Homo sapiens: one gene and its partner. The protein of the gene in region 1 interacts with the protein of each later gene in a biochemical or structural test. Each region holds a gene or a part of one and is shown in the gene's direction. Other genes may lie near its edges. The genes, in order: INCENP and EVI5.

Region 1 (12,404 bases):
GTTTTTGTAATGGCTATCAAGTTTTTTGTTTTGTTTTTTTTTTTTTGAGACAGTCTCGCTGCGATGCCCAGGCTGGGGTGCAATGGTGTGATCTTGGCTCACTGCAACCTCCACTTCCTTAGTTCAAGTGATTCTCCAGGCTCAGCCTCCCAAGTAGCTGGGATTACAGGCGCACACCACCATGACCAGCTAATTGTATTTCTAGTAGAGTTGGGGTTTCACCACATTGGCCAGGCTGGTTTTGAACTCCTGACCTCATGTGATCTACCTGCCTCGGCCTCCCAAAGTGCTGGGATTACGGGTGTGAACCACTGCACCCGGCTGGTTATCAAGTTTTAAGGAGGATACCTGAGCTGCTAGTTTTATAAGAAAGTGAGAAAAAACTGTTTTTGTGTTTTCTCTTGCTCAATGCTTGTAGGCAAGTTTTCTTAAAAGCAAGATATTGCTTACTGTTCCCTTCTTGTTCTATTTATGCTCCATTTGGAGGGCATTTCAGCTCAAGGGAGAGGGTTGTGGGAGGCCCCTTGAGGGCATATCTCTGGATCACTACTTTCTCACTCATTCCTTTGGAACACAGAATCTCTTCTGCTCACTGGCCTCTTAAAGAGGCAGTTGGGTTTGATGTTCTTTGGCCTGATGTCTGGAGTCAGCTTGTATGTAGTGCAGGGTGGCTGTGTCTTAGCCCTCACTTAACCATGAGTAGTAAGATGAGGGCCTACTGGAGAGCGAGAGCAGGACTGTGTTTGGGCAGGGAGTGAGGGGCCCTGGGGTGGCCAGGAAGACAGATGGCAGTGCCCTGTCATCTTAAGCCCAGAAAAGGCCATTTATAAGGAGGACTGTCAATGTCAGAATTGGTTGGGAACTGTGGACTTATGGGGACAGTCATGCTGGCGGGGGGGTGGGGACAGGGAGGTATTTGAAGAGTGTGAGTAGAAGGGCTTCTCTTTGTAGAGATGAGGCTAGGGGATGAGTGTTTGGAATTCTGCAGCTCTGGGGAGTGGCTGTGAGCAGAGAGGGGCCCTGGTTCGGGCACTGGGTGTTTGTGGTGGTTGTGGGTCAGGTGGGTATTGCAGCTTGGAGAAAGCCCCAGACCCCTACCCTGGGCCCCTAACTTGTGCCTCTTGTCCCTGCCTTCACCAGACAGAGCCACCATGGGGACGACGGCCCCAGGGCCCATTCACCTGCTGGAGCTATGTGACCAGAAGCTCATGGAGTTTCTCTGCAACATGGATAATAAGGACTTGGTGTGGCTTGAGGAAATCCAAGAGGAGGCCGAGCGCATGTTCACCAGGTGAAGACGGGCACAGTGAGAGGCTGGGAACACCAGGGCCTGTCTGGGCTGCTTTGGTCTTGGGGACACAACAGCCCCTCGTCCCCGCCTACCTGGCAAAACAGACAGCCTGTCAGGGCTCCCTGCTGTATACTGTGTGTGCAGTGTGCTGGGGGCCTGACCTAGTGTCATGGGAAGAGGCAGCAGGAGAGATCCAGTCCCTTGCCTATTCGCCATCGTTGCTGGCTGGGCCTCTCAGGGTATGTGGCAATGGACGTGCGCCTGGGAGCTTGCTTCCCTGCCGTGTCTCCAGGAGGAAGCCCTGAGTGCCCGCAGGTGACTTGCACATGGCCTTGGAGAGCTCACTTGGTGCTGGACACCCCAGCTTGACCTGTCGCTGCCAGGAAATGGGCAGGGGCCAGGCTGGGTGGGAGAGGGGACCAGTGGTTCCCAGGCAGCCTCGAGTGACACCCTCCTTGTGCCAAACAGAGAATTCAGCAAAGAGCCAGAGCTGATGCCCAAAACACCTTCTCAGAAGAACCGACGGAAGAAGAGACGGATTTCTTATGTTCAGGATGAAAACAGAGATCCCATCAGGAGAAGGTAGGAGGGGTTGGGGGAGAGTGAGCTGAGCAGTGGGCTCTGCGGAGGCTTGGTGCCATCTGGGAGTTTGATTCTGAAGGTGTTGATTTGGAAGTAGCAGCCTGTAGGAGGGGTGGTGGGTACCACCGCGGGTACTGCGTGGGCCATGCTGAGAGGGGTTGGGATGCCACAGGGAACTATAGCTTGACCCAAGACCCTGGAGTCCAAATCTGTGGCTGTGTGTTGGGGGTGGGTGTGTTTGATCTGGGCCCTGGAGAATGGGAAAGATTTCCGTAGGTGGGATGAGAAAGAGAAGCCATCCTTCTGTTAGGTGAGTGTGACCAGGGGTGTAGACCACGTGCCTTGTCCCAGCCGTCATATTGTCATGCTTGTTTTAGTCCCCCTCAGGAATGATTGGGGCTGCAGAGTGCTAGGGAAAGAGGCTGGGTCTTGGGGTTAGGCTTGGGTGTGAACCCCAGCTCTGCCCCTTAGCAGAGCAGTACGGCTTTGAATTGAATTTCTGCCTCTCTGAGCCTCCGTTCCTCATCCCTAAAATGGGGATAGTGGTCTCTGCCTCTCAAGGGCGTGCTCTGGATTAAGGCAGAGCGTGTGTAAGGCTTTCAGCAGGGGCTCGGTGTGGTGTAACTTCAGTCAGCCGGAGGTTTGGATGAATATAATCTTCCTAGCCAGTTCTGTGCGGACTGTGGCATGATCCCCAATTTACAGTTAGGAAGACTGCGGCTCAGACAAGAATGGCCTGGGGCCTCATGGCTAGAGGTGGCAGAATCTGGCCTGGAACCCAGATCTTTTGCCTTCACCTTCTCTTATCATACTCTATCCAAGCTGGTGGCTCTTGGAGAGACTGGGTGCCACCCTGTCCTGCTGCCCGTCTCAGCCTCTGCCCTGCTGCCCCTGCCAGGTTATCCCGCAGAAAGTCTCGGAGCAGCCAGCTGAGCTCCCGACGCCTCCGCAGCAAGGACAGTGTAGAGAAGCTGGCTACAGTGGTCGGGGAGAACGGCTCCGTCCTGCGGCGTGTGACCCGTGCTGCGGCTGCAGCTGCCGCGGCTACCATGGCATTGGCTGCACCTTCTTCACCCACCCCTGAGTCTCCCACGATGCTGACTAAGAAGCCCGAGGATAACCACACCCAGTGCCAGCTGGTGCCTGTGGTGGAGATCGGCATCAGTGAGCGCCAGAATGCTGAGCAGCATGTCACCCAGCTCATGTCCACCGAGCCTCTGCCCCGCACTCTGTCCCCGACTCCAGCTTCAGCCACAGCTCCAACCTCCCAGGGCATCCCGACATCAGATGAGGAATCAACACCTAAGAAGTCGAAGGCCAGGATACTGGAGTCCATCACAGTGAGCTCCCTGATGGCTACACCCCAGGACCCCAAGGGTCAAGGGGTCGGGACGGGGCGGTCTGCGTCTAAGCTCAGGATTGCGCAGGTCTCCCCTGGCCCACGGGACTCGCCAGCCTTTCCAGATTCTCCATGGCGGGAGCGGGTGCTGGCTCCCATCCTGCCGGATAACTTCTCCACGCCCACGGGCTCTCGCACGGACTCTCAATCGGTGCGGCACAGCCCGATCGCCCCGTCTTCCCCGAGTCCCCAAGTCTTAGCCCAGAAGTACTCTCTGGTGGCCAAACAGGAAAGTGTTGTCCGCAGGGCGAGCAGAAGGCTTGCCAAGAAGACTGCCGAAGAGCCAGCTGCCTCTGGCCGCATCATCTGTGAGTCTGGGGGCTTGGCAGTGGCGGGTGGTCCTTGGTGCCAGGCTCAGATGGAGGCTTTCTGAGGGATCATCTAGCAAGGAGCTGTCCAGAGAGCTTTCTGCAGTGAGGTAGATGTTACACATCTGTGCTGTCCTGGGATGGTGGCCGCTAGCTGGCCTCATCTGGCGATTGTGTCCTCAAAATGTGGCTAGTGTGATTGAGGAACTGAATTTTAAATTGTATTGCATTCTACTTCTTTTAGATTTAAATAGTTACATGTAGCTAGTGGCTTCCACGTTGGATGGTGCAGGTCTGACCCAACCTACTTGCTTTACAAGTGAGGAAACTGAGCTTCGGGAAGGTCGGCCACTGTGTGGCTGTGGTTACTGGCCATGTTGAGGCTGGAGCCTGGGCCTCTTCCGCAGGGCCAGCTCATTCCTCCCAACCCTATGCTGCAGAGGCCACTTAAATTCACCGGGTTTGCGCGCCGCCTATTGGCGACACTGTGTTTGATCTGGAGGAGGGAATTATGGCAGCAGGCTCCTTCGGGGAGATCAGATGACTGGGCATCTGATGGGAGCCAGGAGGGGGAACCAAGCTGACTCTGGAGCTGGCCGGCCTGGGTCTGAGTGCCAACTCAGCCATTCACCCACCCTGCAGCCTGGGGCAGGTCCTGGAAACTTCACGGGCCTCCACTCCTTGCCTGTCAACTGGGGCTAATCGCGTCACTTCAAAGGGTCGTTGTGAGGTTTTCTTTGGTCACCCCACACAGGGAGTTTAGAAGGGTGCCTGGCATATAGGAAGGACTCGGTAATGTTAGCTGCTCTCTCAGATCTCAGCTTAGGGGGCCATTGCCCACTGGAGCAGGTGTCTGGAGGGGCAGGCTGGCTGCATGAGGAGGTGAATCTGAGCTGGGAGGGTTCTGAAGGATGGCTGCGCTTTTGCTGAGTGGAAAAAAAATGCGGGGATATGTGTTATTGGCAGAGGGAACAGCTTGTACGAAGACCCTGATGCCTAAAGCAACAAGTGATGGGTGTCTGGGGCTCATGCTCACACAAGAGCTTGAACTTGACCCCACTGAAGCAAAAGAAGTGGCTTGATGATGGGAAAGTGAGGGAAACAGGGAGACCAGATAGGAGGCTGCTGTAAGGATGCAGGCAGAGGACGGGCAAAGCAGCGGATTGGTGGCGAGGATAGGCCAGGATTTATCTTTTTTTTTTTTTGATACAGAGTCTCGCTCTGTTGCCCAGGCTGGAGTGCAATGGCACGATCTCGGCTCACTGCAACCTCTGCATGCATCTCAGGTTCAAGCAATTCTCCTGCCTCAGTCTCCCGAGTAGCAGGGATTACAAGCGCCCGCCATCACACCAGGCTAATTTTTGTGTTTTTGTTTTTTAGTAGAGATGGGGTTTCACCATGTTGGCCAGGCTGGTTTCGAACTCCTGACCTCAAGTGATTCACCCGCCTTAGCCTCCCAAAGTGCCGGGATTACAAGTGTGAGCTACTGCGCCCAGCCCAGGTTTTATCTCAACGCATGTTAAATAGTAGCTGGCATCTGCCTGGCACTTTAAGATTTATAAAATGAAAGGTTATTTCATTTGGTCCTTACAGCAGCATTGTTAGCTTGTGAGGAATTTTTCACTTTACAGAGGAGGAAACTGAGGCTTAAGGAGGCCATGGAGTCTGTAAATCGGGAAGCTGGGGCTTGAGCGCTGTGTGTTTCATTCTGTCCAGAAAGTCAGGTGCTTGCAGAAGAGGCTTTGTGCAAGGCCGCAGGGCAGGGCCTGTCAGGCAGGGGAGGGCACCTCACCTTGGCAGCTTTCTCTCTGCCTGAGTCACACTGCCTGGGGACGGGCCTGCTCCAGGGTTTGGGGTGACATACTCTGGGGCGTGTGCAGATGTGCAGTCTGCCACACTGTCTATTTCTGGATTCTCAGAAGGATCTAAATGGTTCTGATCTGTTTTGGAGATTTTCTCAGGCCTGGATCTGATCTTGGGAAGGGGCTTCAAGCGGGGGCAGGTGAGCCTGGGCCTGTAGAGGGAGGGCCAGGCAGGGTTGCAGAGAATCTCTGGAGACCTTTGGAGCAGACATCCAGATCTGCAGCTCTCATGCCCTTCCATCACTCTTCCCTCTCTGTCTACCCTTTCCCTGCCCATGAATGGGCTTCTGATTTGACTGGTGCATGTTACCTGGGTCTGTCTGACTCCCAGCCCAGCATCATCTCTCCTCTTGAGGGGGTGGAGGAGAGAGAGGAGGATACAGGATCTAGGATCTGGAGTCACACAGACCCTGGGTGACCTTGGGCACACCCCTTCTCTCAACCTCAGCTTTTCTGTGAAATGGTGATAACACTTGCTTTGAATGTGAATAGATAACTCATCTTAGTGCTTGAGTGTAGTGGATACTCAGTACATCTTATTTGAGAAAACTCACCAATGGCTGATGCTCAGTTTGGGTGCGACAAGGCCGACCCCTAGTGAGGAGCTGCAAGGGTGTCAGGGAGTGGGGCGGTGACAGGGGAGGAGGCTTCCTGGGGGTCTTCCTGATACCAGGCTCTGGGAGAGGCTCTCGGGCAGCTCCAAGGTGGGGTCTTGGTTTGGGTGTTCCCCACGAGCAGCCCTTGACACAAGGATTTGAGTTCAATTTGTTAATTTTTGGGAAATTAACAAATTTAATTTCCCAAAAATTAAATTCGGGATGGGAAGGAAACACCTGCACCAGAGGAATGGAAAAATGAGATAGGAAAAAAAGCCAGCAGTCAGCGTGGGTGGAGGGGGCTTCTGGAAGCCAGAGTGTGGCCCCGGGGCGTGGAACTGCTGTGTGTCAGCAGGAATCCCCTGCCTCCTGGCCTGGTGCGCACGTGCCTGCGGGGCCCATCGGGCAGCAGTTCTGAAGTGGATAGGAAGGGACAGGCCCACTGCCTCAGGACTCCACCTTGGGGCGTTCGAGCCACCTCTGCATTGGAGAACAGTCCTTCCATCCCTCTGCCAGTGCTTAGGCCACTTCCCTACCACCAGACCAGCTCTGAGGCCTGAATGTCGTGCAGATGGCACTTAGCATTCCAGAGAATGCTTGTGCTGGTGGGAGAGCCATGTAGTCACATGGGCGTCTTCATCAGGGAGCACGTGAGCTGGGATGACACAGCATGGGGAGATGAGGAGGATGTATCTTCTGGGTATAAACCCCTTAAATGGGGGTCATCACCACCCATGACTGTCAGCCCGGCGCTGCAGCTGCTCCCACCACCTCCCCAAACCTGGCTGCTATACCCAGGAAGGGTCCTGGCTTCCCTTCTCTGTGCCTGGCCTGCTGTCTTCCCTCTTTTCCTGAGACCCTGTGCACCCCAACCTCCCGCTGGCCACCTCCCAGCCTGAACTCTGACCAAGCCCCCATGGCTCAGGATGCGCCAGCTCAGCTACCTTCTCTCTGTTCCCCAAAAAAGCCTCTTTTTTTCCTGCCTCATGGCCTTGGCCCTCCTTCTCCCTAGACCAGTGGCACTGGGAACAGGCATGCTCCCAGCTAGGAAGAAGCCGGGGACATAAAGCTAGCAGCTGTGGTGAGGATACCAGGGTGAGTGCTGAGGGTGAGGGACCTGGGCTTCCTGTTTTTAATGATTAAGCCTCAGCCTCAAAAAGCTTTTGACAGCCTGGACAACATGGCCAGACCCTATCTCTACCAAAATGGAAAAAATTAGCCAGGTATGGTGGCATGTGCCTGTAGTCCCAGCTACTCAGGAGGCTGAGGTGGGAGGATTGCTTGAACCCAGGAGGTCGAGGCTGCACTGAGCTGAGATTGTGCCACTGCACTCCAGACAGAGTGAGACTCTGTTAAAAAAAAAAAAAAAAAAGCTTTGATTATGAGGTTATATCTATTGATCGTTACTGTATTAAAAATTAAAACTGAGGAGTTTAAAAGTATTTTAAATATTAATATTTTTATATGAATATTTAGTACTTTAAAGATTTAAAAATATTGTTTAATATTTTAACATTATAAAATGCAAGTACCAAGCCTATCACCTGTTTACATTAAGACTTTTTATGAAAAAATAACTTTTCCAAAACAAAAATGTACTGAAGACACTGGCATTATTCTACATTTTGCAAATCTCTTTATTGTATGACTTTAAATAAGCCACATTCTGCGTTTGATCTGTTGTTGCATTGTGTTGTTTGGGTTAAAGTAACTGAAGAACTGGACGGGCGAGGTGGCTCACACCTGTAATCCCAGCACATTGGGAGGCCGAGGTGGGCAGATCATGAGGTTAAGAGATTGAGACTGTCTTGGCCAACATGGTGAAACCCTGTCTCTACTGAAAATACAAAAAATTATCTGGGCGTGGTGGCACGTGCCTGTAGTCCCAGCTACTCAGGAAGCTGAGGCAGGAGGATTGCTTGAAACCGGGAGGTGGAGGTTACAGTGAGCTGAATTCACGCCACTTCACTCCAGCCTGGGTGATACAGTGAGACTCTGTCTCAAAAAAAAAAAGTAGCTAAAGAACATCTGGCCTCACATAGACGTGTAGTTGGGAAAGGGAGGAGTATCTTCATAGCTTTTTCAGATAATTATGCATATTCTTTGTTATCAGGACCAGCGCAAGAAGTGGTAGTTCTTAAAGGTTTGTTGTGGTGTGGAATCTGAAACCATGTTGCTGATTCCACACGGGTCTACCTTGCACTTTGTTTTGTTTTTTTTTGTTTTGTTTTGTTTTTGAGATGAAATCTCACTCTGTCGCCCAGGCTGGAGTGCAGTGGTGCGATCTCAGCTCACTGCAACCTCTGCCTCCCGGTTCAAGTGATTCTCTTGCCTCAGCCTCCCGAGTAGCTGGGATTACAGGTGCCCACCGACGCCCGGATAATTTTTGTCTTTTCAGTAGAGACGGGGTTTCACCATGTTGCCAGGCTGGTCTCAAACTCCTGACCTCAAATCATCCGTCTGCCTCGGCTTCCCAAAGTGCTGGGATTACAGGCGTGAGCCACCACAACTGGCCACACTTTGAATGGATCTTTTAGATGTGTCTGATTTCATAACCACATACATCGATCATTTCGAAAATATTGTTTCACCAAGTTATGCACGTCTTCCAAGTGTTGACACCCTTCATTATATAATATCCTAAAAAAGCACATTTGTTTTCTGACCTCATCAGAAAAGTCCTTAGATATTAGGATGCTGTGACCCTGCTGGTGGTGGATACGCGCTTTTCAAAATTCTACTCTTGGATTCGTTTTGGCTCAATTTTTTTTTTCTTTTTGAGATGGAGTCTTGCTCTGTTGCCCAGGCTGGAGTGCAGTGGCACAATCTCAGCTCACTGCAAGCTCCGCCTCCCGGGTTCACGCCATTCTCCTGCCTCAGCCTCCCGAGTAGCTGGGACTACAGGCGCCCACCACTACGCCCGGCTAATTTTTTGTATTTCTACTAGAGACGGGGTTTCACCGTGGTCTCGATCTCCTGACCTAGTGATCCGCCCGCCTCGGCCTCCCAAAGTGCTGGGATTACAGGCGTGAGCCACCGCACCCGGCCTTGGCCCAATTTTTAAATTATTGTCAGCACGTGGTGTTTTATTTTTGTGATGGATTCACTTCATTGACTTGTGAAAAAATGTCTTCCAGATACCCAAGACTGAATAACCATTGTCAGTCGTTCTTTTAATTAATAATAGTGGTTCAGGTGAAAAAGTGGCTAGTGCAGCTGGCAGCTTAGAGACGAGCGCTTTTCACAGAGAGTTGGGTTTGCAGCAACAGGCATTGTGCACACTTCCCACCTCAGCACACAGAAGAGTAGAATGGCATGTACTTGAGTTTAGATTTAGTAAAATTAGGACTTTTGCAGGCGCAGTGGCTCACGCCTGTAATCCCAGCACTTTGGGAGGCTGAGGCAGGTGGTTCACTTGAGGACGAGTTCAAGACCAGCCTGGCCAACATAGCGAAACCCTATCTCTACTAAAAATATAAAAAATTAGCTGGGTGTGATGGTACATGCCTGTAATTCCAGCTACTTGGGAGGCTGAGGCACCAGAATCCCTTGAACCCATGAGGTGGAGGTTGCAGTGAGCTGAGATTGCGCCACTGCATTCAGCCTGAGTGACAGAGTGAGAGTCTGTCTCAAAAAAAGAAAAAAAATTAGTACTTTTTACACCTTCATCAAGGACATTCCTCAGTGAAACTGGACATCTCTCCTTCCCGTGAGTGTGTGGTCCGAGGATAGTGTTTGATGCTCTGGCCTTGACTGGGGCTGAGGCTTCAGCAGCTAGTTCCTCATTGCTTTTGTGCCATCAGGGCAAATGTCAACATAGTGAAAGGGAAAGTAACATTTTAGTATCATAATTTTAGTATCATGATTAGTTACGACCTCGTGGATCCCCCATGGGTCTCAAGGACGTCCAAGGGTCAGAGGATGCAAGCTGAGAACCACTGGCCTGGACATCCTCCTCCTTTGTAAACTCCTCCAGGCCAGCTCAGGTCCCCCCATCATAGGCTTTTAAAATTCTCTGCTCTGGACCAGGCGCAGTGGCTCACGCCTGTAATCCCAGCACTTTGGGAGGCCGAGGCGGGTGGATCACTTGAGGTCAGGAGTTCGAGACCAGACTGGCCAACATGGTGAAACCCTGTCTCTATTAAAAATACAAAAATTAGCCGGAAGTCGCTTGAACCCAGGAGGCAGTGGTTGCAGTGAGCTGAGATTGTTCCACTACACACCAGCCTGGGCAACAGAGCAAGACTCCGTCTCAAAAAAAAGAAAAAAAATTTCTCTGCTCTGTTCCACCATTGCCCATGCTGGTGTTGTTGATAGGACTATTTGATGATTGTTATCTAGACCAGATGGTGGTTCTGTTTTGCTCACCATTGGGGTCCTGGGGCCTGGCCCAGGTCCCAGTACACTGTAGACACTTGATGAATATTTGTTGACAGAATAAGCTGCTTTGTGTTGGGCCCCATGCTGGGAGTTTGGGGCCTGGAGCTGCAGCAAACATTGTCCCTCTTCTCGAGATATTCCCAGCCCAGTGAAGGTGCCCAGCCGTGCTCTCAGATGGGCATGGGAAGACCATCTGGGAAGCAGCCGGGGACATGAAGCCAGCAGCTCCGATAAGGACACTAGTATGAGTGCTGAGGGGAGGGTCCTGGGCATGGTGGGGGCTCCACGGCTAGTGATGGGAGCAGTGGCCAGGCCCTTGCTGGAACCCGGTCCCCTGGACCCCTTAGAGTGGGACCTGTGTGGTCTCTGATGAGATCTTTTGTGCCTTTCTTTTCCCCCTCAGGTCACAGTTACCTGGAGAGGCTCCTGAATGTTGAGGTGCCCCAGAAAGTTGGGTGAGTTCAGTTCCAGGGCTTCGGAGGTAGGCAGGGCATACCAGGACAGGGAGCCAAGGTGAGCACCAGGGCTGGAAGCAATTCCTGGGCTGAGTCTTCCCCACTGAGCCTTGACCGCCCAGGAGCTGCCCCGTTTTCCCTGTCTGACCAGGCAGTGAGTGATGTGGGTGTTGGCCACCTGGTCTCCTTGCAGCACCCGTCAGCGTTGCTGGTTGCCTGGCTAGACCTGACCCTGGGGCGTGGGCTCCAGAGGTTGGGGGTGAGGCGGGGCTGCCAGGAAGAGCTACATTCAAACTGGCTGGGGTAGGATAGGAGTGCTCCAGGATTACACCCAGTGCTGCTTCGGGCCAGGACACAGACTCCTTTTCCTGGAGGCCGTGTCCTGCCATCACTAAAACCAGCCCCCTCCCTCCTTGCTGCAGAGCAGAGGGTTTGTTCTTGGGACGGGGAAACAGGGTGACAGGGCAGACCTGCTGGCCTTGCCAGCCCCATGGTGAATAGAGAACAGACCACAAAAGAGATGCAGCTCACCTGGGCCCAAGAGGTGGAGGCGGAGCTGAGGACAGGGCTCACATCCTGAGACAGCTCTGTGGTGGGGTGCCAGGGAGATGAAGCCACATTCTGAAGCTGACATCCCTCGTCTGTCCATGGAGCCATTGCCGGGAGCTGCCATCCTCCTATCCTACAGGGGGCTGTGGGTTCGTGGCCCTGGCCAGGGCACCTTGTGTTGACCTCTTGGGTCCCCATCCCTGGAATGGTAGAGGGACTCCCTAGGGGGAGGGCTTGGACTAGCTGGGCAGTCCCCTCAGAGTCCCTCTTCTGTTTTCAGTTCTGAGCAGAAGGAACCCCCCGAGGAGGCTGAGCCTGTGGCGGCAGCTGAGCCAGAGGTAAGACGGCTGCCTGGGGAAGGGAGGACTCACCTCTGGGGCTCCCGCTCTGCACTACGGCCATCCTGGGCCTTGGGTTCCAGGTCAAGACCCCTAAAGCCTTGGTTCTTTCCACAGGTCCCTGAGAACAATGGAAATAACTCGTGGCCCCACAATGACACGGAGATTGCCAACAGCACACCCAACCCGAAGCCTGCAGCCAGCAGCCCGGAAACACCCTCTGCAGGGCAGCAAGGTGAGGCTTCCTGACCTGCCGTGTGCAGTGCCCGGAGCCACAGCGGGCCTTGGCGGCCTCGGCCTGACCTTCTCTCTGGGGATAAGGAAGCCCCATTTTCTGGGCCAGTAGGCTAAAGAGAAATTAAACCTGGGGGTGCAGAGATCCCTTTTGAGTCTGTAGACTTCACCTCCCACCGTTGGGCTGGAGCTGTCACTGAGTGCAGCATGGGGGGCTGTGGCTGGTTGGGACAGGAAGCAGAGGAAGGGGCTGCATCGGGGTATGGATATGAAGAGGCCAGGTCAAGGCCTTGACCTTGACTCCAGGGGCCAGTGGGAAGAGCTGTGGGCTGGGGATTGAACACCCCACCTGGCCTCCTGCTTTGCCTCCCCCGCCAGCTCCTTTCTGACCTTTGTATGTCCATCCTTGT
Region 2 (16,020 bases), on another chromosome or scaffold:
CTCTGTCCCCTTCCAGTGCTGTGGGAGAGAAAAGAGAAAACAACTACCTTAGGAGAGAGCCAGGTTTCAGTGTTGAAATATTCTTAGGGGAGATACAGATTTCAGCTAAAGAAAGAGAGGAACATTTGGAAAAGAGATTGAGGATATAGGTAGACTATTCTGTTGATGGTAGGATATGGGTTCCAGAAAATGCTGTGGAAAAGATTTAGGAAAGATTGGAAATGGGGTCAGATTAGGAGAACAGTAAAATCATTTAGGATGAGAGTCCTGGGATTTGGGGCTTCTCGTAGTGACTGACATAATTCAGTGGGGCTGTGGGGCTTGATAGAATTAATAGAGATAGTCTCCTAAGTAGAATTGTGGCCATCTGTGTTGAGAGGAAGGAAGAAGTGCAGGTTTTGCCAAGAGTGACTCTTGGCCCCCTGTCCGTGGCTGTGTCAAGGCCAGGAAAAATGTCTTGTTATTAGCAGCAGTCTTCAGTAAGAAGAAGGCCTGGAGATCCTTTGGGATGTTCTCTTTTGAAACACACTGGTATAACGGGAATGAATGAGAATTAGCAAATTTTATTATTTTGAGAAAGATGGTTTAACAATTTGGATAGTTATTTGCCTAAGTATTCTGAATATCTTTGTAGCTCTTTACAGAGCTTTCACATTCATTATCTTATTTGATATGATTTCCTAGTGATTTACACATAAAATGTGAAATTGGTACCTTTAAACCCCAATTTCAGATAATGTGAAAACTTAATTTATATGTCCTTTTAATACTTGTACCATGTCATATGATTTTTTGCTCAGAATCCTCAAAAATCCCTCTCTCTCACTTAAGGTAAAAGTCGAAATCCTTACAGTGGCCTCTACAGTCCTCTGCATTTTGGTTCCCTGTTATTTCTCCTCCATGATGTAACCTTCACTCATAGTATTCTAATTTAGTAGTTCTCTATTTGCTGTTTCTTGAGCATGCCAAGTGTGATTCCATTTTAGGACCTTTGTACTCTTTGGTCTTCTGGAACTGTTCTTTCCTCAAATGCTCCCTTGCTTTCTTCAGGATTCTGCTTAACTGTTACCGTATCAGGGGACCTTTCCTGATCTATATCAATAGCCGTGTGTCTCCCCAGCATTCCCTACTTTATTTTATTTCTGTAGCATCCATCACCATCTGACATATATATTAGTTGATTTATTCCATGTCTTGTCTGTCTCCCTCCATTAGAAATTCAGGTTCCTTGAGAATAGAGATTGTGTTTATTTTGTTCACTGGTGTATACCCAGAGAGAGAAAAGTATCTGGCTGTAAATCAGTATTTTGGGTTGAATTAATGAATGAGGCAAGTTGAGGCAGTTGGTTTCAGAGGTTGTAAGATTTGTTTAACTTCTCATTCTTGGTGATAGAATGGGAGACTAGAACTTTCTGATTCTTACCTCATTGCTCTTAACATTGCAGCACACAGCCACTCAAACAATGTTTGTGGTTGGCTGTGTACTTAGTTTAAATATCATTGGTTTATTTGTGTATCAGAGAACATTAACCTATGTTGTTTTTTTTTCTTCCAATGTAGATGCCAGAAGAAGAAGCTTTCTGTGTATTTGTTAAATTAATGCAAGATTATAGACTTCGTGAACTTTTTAAACCAAGTATGGCAGAATTGGGCCTTTGTATGTACCAGTTTGAATGTATGATACAGGTAAAAGTGCAGTGTTGATAAAAAGGCATATTGCCTTTATATTTTTTATATCTTGTTCTGAGTGCCAACTAAGCAAATTTAATGTTAAAAGCATTAAAGCACTTGAAGAAGTAAGTGTTTTAATTACATGATTGTTTTTTGGTTGGTTAATGTACAATTTGACCCTTCAAATTAGGTAGATCACAGTCTAGGACTTGACTCCAGTTTTCATATTCAATCCTTAAGCATTTCTGCCAAATGTACTATACACCCCTTACCTAAGCACATGAATTTCCTTATTATATCCTATTATTGTTACGTAGTCTAAGCTCTCTTACAGGAGCTTTATGATATTACACTGACATCAGTCCATTTACTTGGAGACTGTCTCTTTGAGTCCTCTCCTCTGCCTTTTTACTTTTATTTTATTTTTATTTTTTGCTAGCCCGTAATTTTTTTTCCTGTAATGTTTTCTTATGTTGCTAGTTTAAGACTCAAGTTATCTAGTGACTGTATGAAGGTGGAGAGAATAGGAGCAGAATCAAAATCAAGGGAAAAATACCTTTGAAGTATTTTACCTTTCTGGATTTAATTTTTATATTTTATATATTTAAGTTTGCTATAATGTAAATATTTTCATTTATTTCAATTTCAATTTCAATTAAATGAGCAGAATTTAAGAAAATAGGTGAATGAATCAGCTGGCATGAGAGCCATTTTTATTAGTTTCCTCTCTCCTGGCAGCCTTATAAACTCCAGTTTTTCCCATCTGTGGTGGGAGCAAGGGGATATGTAAAATGTTCTTATATTTTATTTTTTATTTATTCATTTATTTATTTTTGAGATGGAGTCTCGCTCTGTGGCCCAGGCTGGAGTGCAGTGGCGTGGTGTCGGCTCACTGCAAGCTCCGCCTCCTGGGTTCATGCCATTCTCCTGCCTCAGTCTCCCAAGTAGCTGGGACTACAGGTGCCTGCCACCACGCCCAGCTAATTTTTTGTATTTTTTTAGTAGAGATGGGGTTTCACCATGTTAGCCAGGATGGTCTCGATCTCCTGACCTCATGAACCGCCCGCCTTGGCCTTCCAAAGTGCTGGGATCACAGGCGTGAGCCACCGCTGTGCCTGGCTAATTTTTTAATTGACATACAATAGTTGTACATTATGGGGTACATATTTTTTGTTTTTATATATTTTAAAGAAAAAGCCAGAATAGGTTTTGAGATGATTTTTTTTTTTTTCCTGAGACAGAGTCTATCTAGCTCTGTTGTCCAGGCTGAAGTACAATGACACAATCACAGTTCACTGCCGCCTTGACCTCCTGGGTTCAAGCCATCCTCCTCCCTCAGCCTCCTGGATAGCTGAAACTACAGGTGTATACCACTGCACCTGAATAGTTTTTTATCTATTTTGATTTTTTATTTTTTAATTTTTGTAGAGACAGGGTTTCACTCTGTTGTCCAGGTTGGTGTTGAACTCCTGAGCTCAAGTGATCTTCCTATCTCAGCCTCCCAAAGTGCTGGGATTACAGGCATGAGCCACTGTGCCTGGACTTGAGATGATTCTTAATTAATTCTTTTCTGAAATAGTAAGCTTGTTTTTAGCAGCCTTAAACTCTCTTAATGTTATATTTTCAATTAATGTGTCATTTATGGCTGGACGCAGTGGCCCATGTTTGTAATCCCAGCACTTTAGGAGGCTGAGGTGGACAGGTCACTTGAGCCCAGGAGTTTGAGACCAGCCTGGGCAACATGGCAAAACCTTGCCTCTACTAAAAATAAAAAAAATTGGCTGGGCATGGTGGTGTGCACCTGTAGTACCAGCTGCCTGGGAGGCTGAGATGGGAGGATTGCTTGAGCTTGGGAGGCAGAGGTTGCAGTGAGCCAAGATCACACCACTGTACCCTAGCCTGGGTGACAGAGTGAGACCCCATCTCAAAAAAAAAAAAAAGTCTCATTTATGTTTTGAATTACTAGAGTTGCTGAAACATCTGTATTTTGAATATTTTTCCTATTCTTTAGGAAGGTAAGAATGGGTGATCAGTGGTAGATAGTGCCTGAAAGTATTTTAACATACCATTTATTTTCTTTTTAAACGTCTTTTTAAAATATTATAGTTGATAGAAGAGTATAGAAAATGTCAGTCACTCTTGTATCCACCAACAGGATTAAACAAATATAAAACTTTTATTCAGTTTCTTTTTATTAATAAATTAAATGTTATACTCAAAATTCCAACTTCACATTCTTTCCCCCTTCTTTCTTTCCTAGATACTAGCCACTGTCCCAGATGTTTCAATGTCTATGTCTTACCTTTTCCATATGATGCTTGATCTAATCTGTGTTTGGTATAGGCTAATCTAGTATAAATATAATCTAATTTAAAATACTCAGTTTTACTGTGTTATAACTAATTATTTTCTTCTCTTTAGGAGCATCTTCCAGAGCTCTTTGTACATTTTCAATCTCAGAGTTTTCATACCTCAATGTATGCATCATCCTGGTTTCTGACTATCTTTCTTACAACTTTTCCACTACCAATTGCAACAAGGATATTTGATATCTTTATGTCTGAGGTAAGCTAATGGGCAGACAAAGAGCAGGAGCTGAGCAAAGGGGTCACTGAGTTAGTGAGAGCAGGGCAATGAGGAGAGCAATGAAGGAAAGCCATGTGTCCCATGCAAAACTGCTTACATGGATAATCTCATTTAAACCTTATAATAACCCTATCAGGTAGATACTGTTTTTATTGCATTTGTTAGATGATAGATGAGGAAGTTGAGACTTAGAGAAAGGTTAAGTAGCTTGTCTATGGACACACAATACATAAGTGGTGTTGTAACCAGGATTCAAACATAGGCAGTTTGGAGCCTACACTGTTAATCATACCTCTTTATCACCTCCTAACTCATACAGTGAAAGTTAGTGAGAGGTAAAATTTGTCTTACAGTTAATATTGTTGAAATGCATCTGTCATCCAAAGAGTAAGAAGTAATAAGCATGTTTCTTCTATGAACACATTGCAGGTTGTTGTCCTTTTGTCAGTAGCACATAGAGGTAATCCTTTGTTTTCTAGTCTGTGAACTCAATGTTGTTATTAATTACATCTTGGGAAAATCAATTTGTATTACCTATCTAAATTAGTTCAGATCACAGTTGGTCAGCTGTGATTCATGTACCAATCAGATGGACAGATTTTTGTGCGAAATCCATTCTTCCACACCTGTTTTTTATAAAGTTTTCCTAGAACACAACCCTGCCCATTTATTTATATGTCGTGTATGTCTGCTTTAGGGTTGTAGTGGCAGAACTGAGTAATTTTGACAGACAATATAGCCCACCAAACCTAAAATACTTGCTTTCTGACTCTTGACAGAAAATGTTTGCCAGCCCCTAGTTTAGATCCCTAAATGTTTACCTTAGTATTATTTCAAATGACTCGTTTTTGTTGATGGAAGAGTAACATAAATTTGGATTTATTTAATTTGTTTCCTCAGGGTTTAGAAATAGTGTTTCGTGTAGGATTAGCACTTCTTCAGATGAATCAGGCAGAACTGATGCAACTTGACATGGAAGGGATGTTACAGGTAAGTTCATAATTTATTTTCTTTTTTTTTTTTTGAGACAGAGTTTAGTTCTGTTGCCCAGGCTGGAGTGCAGTGGCGTGATCTTGGCTCACTGCAACCTCTGCCTCCCAGGTTCAAGTGATCCTCCTACCGCTTCAGCCTTCTGTGTAGCTGGAATTACAAGCATGCACCACTACACCTGGCTAAGTTTTGTATTTTTAGTAGAAACAGGGTTTCATCATGTTGGCCAGGCTGGTCTTGAACTCCTGACCTGAAGTGATCCGCCTGCCTTGGCCTCCCAAAATGCTGAGATTACAAGCATGAGCCACCACGCCCAGCCCATAATTTCTTGAATGTCTTTGGATTTCACTATTAACAGCACTAAGTCATTCTTATGTTTTTTTTTTAATTGTATCTTAGCACTTTCAAAAGGTCATTCCACATCAGTTTGATGGTGTCCCAGACAAGCTAATCCAAGCAGCTTACCAAGTCAAATACAATTCAAAAAAAATGAAAAAGTAAGTATTTTATATTTTTGTTGGAAATTCAGTGGAAGTTGCAAAACATTCTAGTGATACAGTTTTCCTCCTTAGGTTATAGAACTATATTATTTTCTTCGGTGGTATTGGTTTCAATATAGCATAAAGCTAATGTTGGAATATACTGCTTTTAACAGTGGTGCATGGGACTAGCATGTACTACCTTTAAAACTTTCCTCCTTTTCCACGTTGACTAGAATTAGGAGCCTGGAATGGATATACATATATGAGGATGCTGTTATTTTTAAAACCACTTTTCTGGTGTGGTCCCATTCATTGACATTCTTTTCCTCTTAGTTTGACCCCACAGTGTCACTTAAGTTCAAAATTAGCATAACCAGCAAGATAGACATGAGGTATGGATTGAGAACTTAAAATTTTATTTATTTATTTTAGAGACAGGCTTTTGCTCTGTCACCCAGGCTGGAGTACAGTGGTGTGATTATGGCTGCTCACTGTAGCCTTGAAATCCTAGGCTCAAGTGATCCTCCCACATCAGCTTCCTGAGTACAGGAAGTACCCTGTCTCTACTAAAGCACAGGTGTACTACAGGCGCACACCACCATGCCTGGCTAATTTTAAAATTTGTTTTGTAGAGACAGAGTGTCACTATGTTGCCCAGGCTGGTCTCGAACCCCTGGGCTCAAGTGATCCTCCCACCTCAGCCTCCTAAAATGTTGGGATTACAGGTGTGAGCCGCTGCACCTGGTCAAATCTTATTTTTTGTACTACTTTCTAATGAAGCTTTTTTTGGCATTCATGTCCTAAAAGTTCAAAATAAAGTCTCTGCTCATTAGTTTTATTTTTGAAACAGATTAAGTGTATTAATTAAAATAATAGCTGTGATTTCTCTAGCTTCCAGTACTTAATTCTTAGCCTGCGGTCATAGTTAGCATTTCTGATACTGTACTTTCTATGGTATAAAATGCTTTAAAATGATAACAGTACTGTATGCTAGCAGTTAGCAGTTTTTCTGCTGCAATATGAAATTACATTAACATGTACAACATACTACTCCCATGGATATTCCTACTCCACAAAGTATATTTAAATATGAGTGAGAATTAATGTTATTAAAATTAGTTAGCTTTTCCATGCACAATGATGTGTACCTGTAGTCCCAGCTACTCCGGAGGCTGAGGCAGGAGGATTGCTTGAGCTCAGGAGTTCACAATCAGCCTAGGTAACATAGTGATACCTTATCTCTTTTAAAAAAATTAAAAAGTTAGCTCTAATTGACAAAAGCAAGCCAAGCCGATTTTTGAGCTTCAGCTTTTATTAAGTTACTTGTGATGTTTTAAATAACCACCATCATGTTGATACGTTTTAAATAACTACCATGTGTGGAGACATCATATAGACAAAAAGCCGCTGTGCCTTGTAACTGATAAAAACAAATTATCTCAATTTTTGTCACTTGGTAAAACCACATTGAACTCACACTAGCCAGGCAGAGAATTTATTTGACTTTAAAAGTCTGATAGAGAATGAGGTTCCTTAACCTTCTTGGTAACTAATTCTCCTTGCATAGATCTTGTCATATGTACAATCCATTTCTGAAATTTCAATTAATCCTGTTTACTTATCAGATTTCTGGCCCTCTATTTCTTTCACTTCCTTATTCGTGCTCTCCCCATTCTGCTTTATCAAGATCTCTAGATTGAGGTTTAAAAGCCTTCTTCTGATATGAACAACTGTGCTTCCTCTGCCCTTTTGTTTCCTGTATTCATGTATCCAATTGTTATTGCATAGTTACTGAGATTGCTGACAGTAAATTATGTTTCCAGTGGCCTTCCATGTATATTTATATTGACTTTGATTAATTATCTCATTCCTCACAGTGGTTACTTCAAACCTTACCATTCTTCCCAAACTCCCATCCCCTTTTTGCTATATGTAACTCTCACCAGATTACCTTATTCCTAATTCAGCAGTCATTTCCAAACTTCCTAAACTTGCTGTCTTCCAGCTTGTAGACTTAGCTATGTTCTTTTTCTTCTCTTTTTAGAATACAGTATTTTTTTTTCCTTTATAATGCTAATTCAGAATACGTGATGTTACTCATTTCCATCTCTTCCAGGTCTTTGCTCCATTAATTATTCCTTCTCTATCTTCAACCTCTCTCTCTGTTGTTTCATTTTCTTCAATCTAAGAAGATAATTTTGAGTTCTGACTTAGAAGCAACAAAACAAAACCTTCCTCAACATAGCATTTCATTTTCCTTTTATGAAGCTTAGCTGTGAAGGAAAGAATAGATTTTACTCATTAGCTACAGATCACATTCTATTTGCTTTTTTTCACTTGGGAAAATTTTCAGACATAACAAAAATAGAATAATAAATATCCATTGCTTATTGTCTGTATTTAACAACTGTTAATATTTTGTCATATTTATTTTTTTCAAAGTATTTCAAAGTAAATATTGTTAATATTTTGTCATATTTATTTTTTTCAAAGTAAAGCTCAGAAATTGTGACACTTCACTCTTTAATACATCAGTATTCATGTCCATAAAGTAATTTGCCTCATTTACCACATTGCTTCCACCACTTAACAGTAGTTCCATAATACTGCCTAATACTCAGTCTATGTTCACATTTCCTCAGTTGTGCCAAAAATGTCTTTGCCATTGATTTCATTGTATTCAGTTGTTCACTTACATTTTTAAAAATTTAGATCAGCACCACCTATTCCAATCTTCTTTTTTAATATATTGGCTTGTTGAAGAGACCAAGTCAGTTATACCGAGAATATCCAACCTGAAGGATTCATCTGATTATTTCCTTGTTATCTCATTTAACTTCTGTATCTCTTGTGTTTTCTATAAACTGGGAGCTAATGTGAAGACTTAATCTAATTAAGTGCAAACATTTCTGACAAGAATACTTAATAGGTGATACCATGTACTTTATTCATCTTAAAAGATGCATAATGTCTGTCTCACTGTTATTAGAGATGCCATGATTGGTGACTAGGTTAAGGTAATGACAGATTTCTTTATTATGAGGTTATGTTTTCCCTCTTGGCACCCAGTAAGTACTTTGTAAGTTGATACTTTGGCATTGTAAGAATATCCAGTTCATTATGACCTTCCACCTCTTGGCTCAGTCTGCTCAAAAGTTATTATTGAGGGCCAGGCACAGTGGCTCACACCTATAATCCCAGTACTTTGGGAGGCCGAGGTAGGCAGATCACTTGAGGCCAGGAATTCAAGACCAGCCTGGGCAACGTGGTGAAATCCTGACTGTATAGAAAAAAAAAAGACCAAAAATTAGCCAGGTATGGTGGTGTACACCTTTAGTTCCAGCTACTCAAGATACTAAGTTGGGAGAATCACTTGAGAAGTCTAGGATGCAGTGAACTGTGATTGCGTCACTGTACTTCAGCCTTGGCAATAGAGTGAGACCCTGTCTCCAAAAAAAAAAAAAAAGTATCATTGGGGATACTTTTCATGTTAAATTATTTCATTTAGGATAACAAAAGCATGATTTTAAAAATGTTATTCTTCTTACATTTATCAGTCAGCTTTCTTCATAACCTTTTCTTCTTTAACTGCAGCTAACTTCATTCTACTGGAAACACATATAAACACTTCATTATTTCAGCCAGGCGTGGTGGCTCACACCCACAATACCAGCACTTTGGGAGGCCCAGGCAAGAGGATTGCTTGAGCCTGGGAGTTTGAGACCAGCCTGGGCAACATAGCGAGACCCCATCTCTGCAATAAATAAAATAAGCTAACCAGGTGCCTGTAGTCCTGGCTTTTCCATAGGCTGAGGTGGGAAGATTGCTTGAGTCTGGAGTTGGAGGCTGCAGTGAGCTGTGATCACAGCACTGCACTCCAGCCTGGGTGACAGAGTGAGACCCTCTCTCTTAAACAAAACAAAACAACTTTATTATTCCCTTTAATTACCAATTTCCAGAGAAAAGAGTTAGTGGGAATGGTGTTCTTTTAAATTAGTCTATTCTTTTGCAGGTGGCATTATTAACGAATTACAGCCTATATTCAGAATGTTTTAAGGTTGCAAAGTAAGCTGTGTTCAACATCACAAAATTTTGCCAAAGTGACACTAATCTATAGTCTAACCCGGCAGTGTAAGAGTTCTTATTGTGGCCACGTGCAGTGGTTTAACATCTGTAGTCCTTTCACTTCAGGAGGCTGAGGCAGGCAGATTGTTTGAGCCTAGGAGTTTGAGACCAGCCCAGGCAACATGGTGAAACTTTGTCTCTACAAAAAAATAGAAAAATTAGCTGGATGTGGTGGCGCCAGCACACCTGTGGTCCCAGCTACTCAAGAAGCCAAGGTGGGAGGATCACTTGAGCCTGGGCGGTCCTGGCTGCAGTGATCCATGATTGTGCCACTACACTCCAGCCTGAGTGACAGAGTGAGACCCTGTCTAAAAAAAAAGTCTCATTGTTCTACTTTGTCATCAGTGCTTGGTTATTCTTAATTTTTGCCAATCTACTTAATTTTTACCAGTAGCAGGGGGCATTATTAAGGACTTACAGGTTTATATTCAGAATGTTTTAAGGTTGCAAAGTAAGCTGTGTTCAGCATCACAGAATTTTGCCAAAGTGACACTAATTTGTAGTCTAACCCAGCAGTGTATGTGTTCTCATTGTGGCCAGTATAAAATGTCTCATTTTCCACTTAATTTACATTTCCTTGATTGTTAATAAGACTAAGCATCTTTTCATATGTTTATTGGCCTCATGTTTTTCTTCTATTTTTTTCCTCCCTTTTTTACTGCAGTGTCTACTTCATACTGCTTTGACTTGTTAGTGGTTACTAGTTGTTTATGATCTGGGTTGTAATCTTTTGTCAGCATTAAAAGATAAGTCTTGTCCATTTCTACTAAGTATCAGTTTTGGAATATATAATAAACTCAACAATTGGACCTACCTCTCAAAAATGCTCAAGCTTCCTGTTGGTTGGAGGGTAGCAGCACAGAAAAGTAAATGGCTTGTTAGATGCAAATATGTAACAGATTATTAAAATTATATGTTAGAGATACCTAACCCGTATGTCTTCAGACTGGCATACACAGACTGCTGGGTGTCAGGAAAATGTTCAGAGCTTGGTTAAGTAGACTTTCAATTTCTATCTATAGTCTTTCCTACAATTTATCTTTCTGATAACATTTCTGTAGTAGAGGTGCCTCGGTTCTTCTTCGCACCTTCCTTTTTACAGCATGCCTTCTCCCACTTTATTAAAGGAAGGAAGGAAAACCTGTCACCCAACCTAGATCTTACTATGGTACCTTACTTTAGTTTATAAAAAATCTCTGTGGCTCCAAACAAAATGAACAATTTCAGAATGACTTGCTCCTGAGGGAGTATCCCCTGAGAGAGCATCCCCTGAGAGAGCAAAGCAAGAAAAATGGAAGTTTTCTTTATTATTATTATTATACTTTAAGTTCTAGGGTACATGTGCACAACGTACAGGTTTTGTTCAGCTCCCACCTATGAGTGAGAGCATGCGGTGTTTGGTTTTCTGTCCTTGTGATAGTTTGTGTAGAATCATGGTTTCCAGCTTCATCCATGTCCCTGCAAAGGACATGAACCCATCCTTTTTTATGGATGCATAGTATTCCATGGTGTATATGCGCCACATTTTCTTAATCCAGTCTATCATTGATGGACATTTGGGTTGGTTCCAAGTCTTTGCTATTGTAAATAGTGCCGCAATAAATATACATGTGCATGTGTCTTTATAATAGCATAATTTATAATCCTTTGGGTATATACCCAGTAATGGGATTGCTGGATCAAATGGTATTTCTAGTTCTAGATCCTTGAGGAATTGCCACACTGCCTTCCACAATGGTTGAACTAATTTACACTCCCACCAACAGTGTAAGCGTTCCTATTTCTTCACATCCTCTCCAGCATCTGTTGTTTCCTGACTTTTTAATGATCACCATCTAACTGGCATGAGATGGTATCTCATTGTGGTTTTGATTTGCATTCTGTGATGACCAGTGGTGATGAGCATTTTATCACATGTCTGTTGGCTGCATAAATGTCTTCTTTTGAGAAGTATTTGTTCATATCCTTGGCCCACTTTTTGATGGAGTTGTCTTTTTCTTGTAAATTTGTTTAAGTTCTTTGTAGATGCTGGATATTAGCCCTTTGTCAGATGGGTAGATTGCAAAGATTTTCTCCCATTCTTTAGGTTGCCTGTTCACTCTGGTGATAGTTTCTTCTGCTGTGCAGAAGCTCTTTAGTTTAATTAGATCCCATTTGTCAATTTTGGCTTTTGTTGCCATTGCTTTTGGTGTTTTAGTCATGAAGTCTTTGCCCATGCCTATGTCCTGAATGGTACTGCCTAGGTTTTCTTCTAGGGTTTTTATGGTTTTAGGTCTAACATTTAAGTCTTTAATCCATCTTGAATTAATTTTTGTATAAGGTGTGAGGAAGGGATCCAGTTTCAGCTTTCTACATATAGCTAGCCAGTTTTCCCAGCATCATTTATTAAATAGGGAATCTTTTTCCCATTTTTTGTTTTTGTCAGGTTTGTCAAAGAGCAGATGGTTGTAGATGTGTGGTGTTATTTCTGAGGCCTCTGTTCTGTTCCATTGGTCTATATATCTGTTTTGGTACCAGTACCATGCTGTTTTGGTTACTGTAGCCTTGTAGTATAGTTTGAAGTCAGGTAGCGTGATGCCTCCAGCTTTGTTCTTTTTGCTTAGGATTGTTTCGGCAATGTGGGCTCTTTTTTGGTTCCATATGAACTTTAAAGTAGTTTTTTCTAATTCTGTGAAGAAAACCAGTGGTAGCTTGATGGGGATGGCATTTAATCTATAAATTACCTTGGGCAGTATGGCCATTTTCATGATATTGATTCTTCCAATCCATGAGCATGGAATGTTCTTCCGTTTGTTTGTGTCCTCTTATTTCATTGAGCAGTGATTTGTAGTTCTCCTTGAAGAGGTCCTTCACATCCCTTGTAAGTTGTATTCCCAGGTATTTTATTCTCTTTGTAGTAATTGTGAATGGGAGTTCACTCATGATTTGGCTGTTTGTCTATTATTGGTGTATAGAAATACTTGTGATTTTTGCACATTGATTTTGTATCCTGAGACTTTGCTGAAGTTGTTTATCAGCTTAAGGAGATTTTGCACTGAGATGATGGGGTTTTCTAAATATCCAACCATGTCATCTGCAAACAGGGACAATTTGACTTCCTCTTTTCCTAACTGAATACCCTGTATTTCTTTCTCTTGCCTGATTGCCCTGGCCAGAACTTCCAACACTATGTTGAATAGGAGTGGTGAGAGAGGGCATCCTTGCCTTGTGCAGGTTTTCAAAGGGAATGCTTCCAGCTTTTGCCCATTCAGTATGATATTGGCTATGGGTTTGTCATAAATAGCTCATTATTTTGAGATACGTTCCATCAATACCTAGTTTATTGAGAGTTTTTAGCATGAAGGCTGTTGACTTTTGTCAAAGGCCTTTTCTGCATCTATTGAGATAATCATGTGGTTTTTGTCGTTGGTTCTGTTTACGTGGTGGATTATGTTTATTGATTTTCGTATGTTGAAGCAGCCTTGCATCCCAGGGATGAAGCCAACTTGATCATGGTGGATAAGCTTTTTGATGTGCTGCTGTATTCGGTTTGCCAATATTTTATTGAGGATTTTCACATCAGTGTTCATCGGGGTATTGGCCTAAAATTCTCTTTTTTTGTTGTGTCTCTACCAGGCTTTGGTATCAGGATGATGCTAGCCTCATAAAATGAGCTAAGGTGGATTCCCTCTTTTTCTGTTGATTGAAATGGTTTCGGAAGGAATGGTGCAAGCTCCTTTTTGTACCTCTGGAAGAATTTGACTGTGAATCCATCAGGTCCTGGACTTTTTTTGGTTGGTAGGCTGTTGATTATTGCCTCAATTTCAGAACCTGTTAATTGGTCTATTCAGGGATTCTACTTCTTCCTGGTTTAGTCTTGGGAGGGTGTATGTTTCCAGGATTTTATCCATTTCTTCTAGATTTTCTAGTTTATTTGCACAGAGGTATTTATAGTATTCTCTGATGGTTGTTTATTTCTGTGGGATCGGTGGTGATATCCCCTTTATCATTTTTTATTGCATCTATTTGATTCTTCCCTCTTTCCTTCTTTATTAGTGTTGCTAGTGGTCTATTTTGTTAATCTCTTCAAAACACCAGCTCCTGAATTCATTGATTTTTTGAAGGGATTTTTGTGTCTCTATTTCCTTCAGTTCTGCTCTGATCTTAGTTATTTCTTGCCTTCTGCTAGCTTTTGAATGTGTTTGCTCTTGCTTCTCTAGTTCTTTTAATTGTGATGTTAGTGTGTCAATTTTAGATCTTTTCTGCTTTCTCTTGTGGGCATTTAGTGCTATAAATTTCCCTCTACACACTGCTTTAAATGTGTCCCAGAGATTCTGGTACATTGTGTTTGTTCTCACTGGTTTCAAAGAACATCTTTATTTCTGCCTTCATTTTGTTATGTACCCAGTAGTCACTCAGGAGCAGGTTGTTCAGTTTCCATATAGTTGTGCGTTTTGAGTGAGTTTCTGAATCCTGAGTTCTAATTTAATTGCACTGTTGTCTGAGAGACCGTTTGTTGTGATTTCTGTTCTTTTACATTTGCTGAGGAGTGCTTTACTTCCAACTATGTGGTCAATTTTGGAATAAGTGCCATGTGGTGCTGAGAAGAATGTATATTCTGTTGATTTGGGGTGGATAGTTCTGTAGATATCTAGTAGGTCTGCTTGGTCCAGAGCTGAGTTCAAGTCCTGGATATCCTTGTTAACCTTCTGTCTTGTTGATCTGTCTAGTATTGACAGTGGGGTGTTAAAGTCTCCCATTATTATTGTGTAGGAGTCTAAGTCTCTTTGTAGGTCTCTCAGGACTTGCTTTATGAATCTGGGTGCTCTTGTATTGGGTGCATGTATATTTAGGATAGTTAGCTCTTCTTGTTGAATTGATCCCTTTACCATTATGTAGTGACCTTCTTTGTCTGTTTTTATCTTTGTTGGTTTAAAGTTTGTTTTATCAGAGACTAGGATTGCAACCCATGCTTTTTTTTTTGCTTTCCAATTGCTTGGTAGATCTTCCTCCATCCCTTTACTTTGAGCCTATGTGTGTCTTTGCACGTGAGGTGGGTCTCCTGAATACAGCACACTGATGGGTCTTGACTCTTTATCTAATTTGCCAGTCTGTGTCTTTTAATTGGAGCATTTAGCCCATTTACATTTAAGGTTAATATTGTTATGTTTGAATTTGACCCCGTCATTGTGATGTTAGCTGGTTATTTTGCCCATTAATTGATTCAGTTTCTTCACAGTGTCACTGGTCTTTACAATTTGTCATGTTTTTGCAGTGGCTGGCACCAGTTGTTCTTTTCCATGTTTAGTGCTTCCTTCAGGAGCTCTTGTAAGGCAGGCCTGGTGGTGACAAAATCTCTCAGCATTTCTGTGTCTGTAAAGAATTTTATTTCTCCTTCACTTCTGAAGCTTAGTTTGGCTGGATATGAGATTCTGGGTTGAAAATTCTTTTCTTTAAGAATGTTGAATATTGGCCCCCAATCTCTTCTGGCTTGTAGGGTTTCTGCCTAGAGATCCGCTGTTAGTCTGATGGGCTTCCCTTTGTGGGTAACCCGACCTTTCTCTGTGGCTGCCCTTAACATTTTTTCCTTCATTTCAACCTTGGTGAATCTGACATTTATGTGTCTTGGGATTGCTCTTCTCGAGGAGTATCTTTGTGGTGTTCTCTGTTTTTCCTCAATTTGAATGTTGTCCTGCCTTGCTAGGTTAGGGAAGTTCTTTTGGATAATATCGTGAAGAGTGTTTTCTAACTTGGTTCCATTGTCCCCATCACTTTCTGGTACAACAATCAAATGTATATTTGGTCTTTTCACATACTCCCATATTTCTTGGAGTCTTTGTTCATTTCTTTTCACTCTTTTTTTCTCTCATCTTGTCTTTTCGTTTTATTTCATTAATTTCATCTTCAGTCACTTTCTTCCACTTGATCGAATCAACTATTGAAGCTTGTGCATGTGTCACGAAGTTCTTGTGCCATGGTTTTCAGCTCCATCAGGTCATTTAAGGTCTTCTCTATAGTGTTTATTCTAGTTAGCCAATCATCTAACCTTTTTTCAAGGTTTTTAGCTTCCTTGTGATGGGTTAGAGCATGCTCCTTTAGCTCAGAGAAGTTTGTTATTACCTACCTTCTGAAGCCTACTTCTGTCAACTCGTCAAACTCATTCTCCATCCAGTTTTGTTCCCTTGCT

Evidence for each region.
Region 2: the proteins of INCENP (region 1) and EVI5 form a complex in vitro, tested with the Homo sapiens proteins (one study listed by BioGRID).

The regions. Positions count from the first base shown.
Region 1 is NC_000011.10:62,127,011-62,139,414, forward strand, and holds part of INCENP (inner centromere protein), read left to right. Parts: intron 1-1,140; 5' UTR 1,141-1,151; coding exon 1,152-1,291; intron 1,292-1,759; coding exon 1,760-1,873; intron 1,874-2,771; coding exon 2,772-3,580; intron 3,581-10,821; coding exon 10,822-10,873; intron 10,874-11,702; coding exon 11,703-11,760; intron 11,761-11,877; coding exon 11,878-11,995; intron 11,996-12,404. UniProt on the Homo sapiens protein: Component of the chromosomal passenger complex (CPC), a complex that acts as a key regulator of mitosis.
Region 2 is NC_000001.11:92,683,526-92,699,545, reverse strand, and holds part of EVI5 (ecotropic viral integration site 5 protein homolog), read left to right. Parts: intron 1-1,560; coding exon 1,561-1,686; intron 1,687-4,092; coding exon 4,093-4,236; intron 4,237-5,157; coding exon 5,158-5,247; intron 5,248-5,646; coding exon 5,647-5,744; intron 5,745-16,020. UniProt on the Homo sapiens protein: Functions as a regulator of cell cycle progression by stabilizing the FBXO5 protein and promoting cyclin-A accumulation during interphase. May play a role in cytokinesis.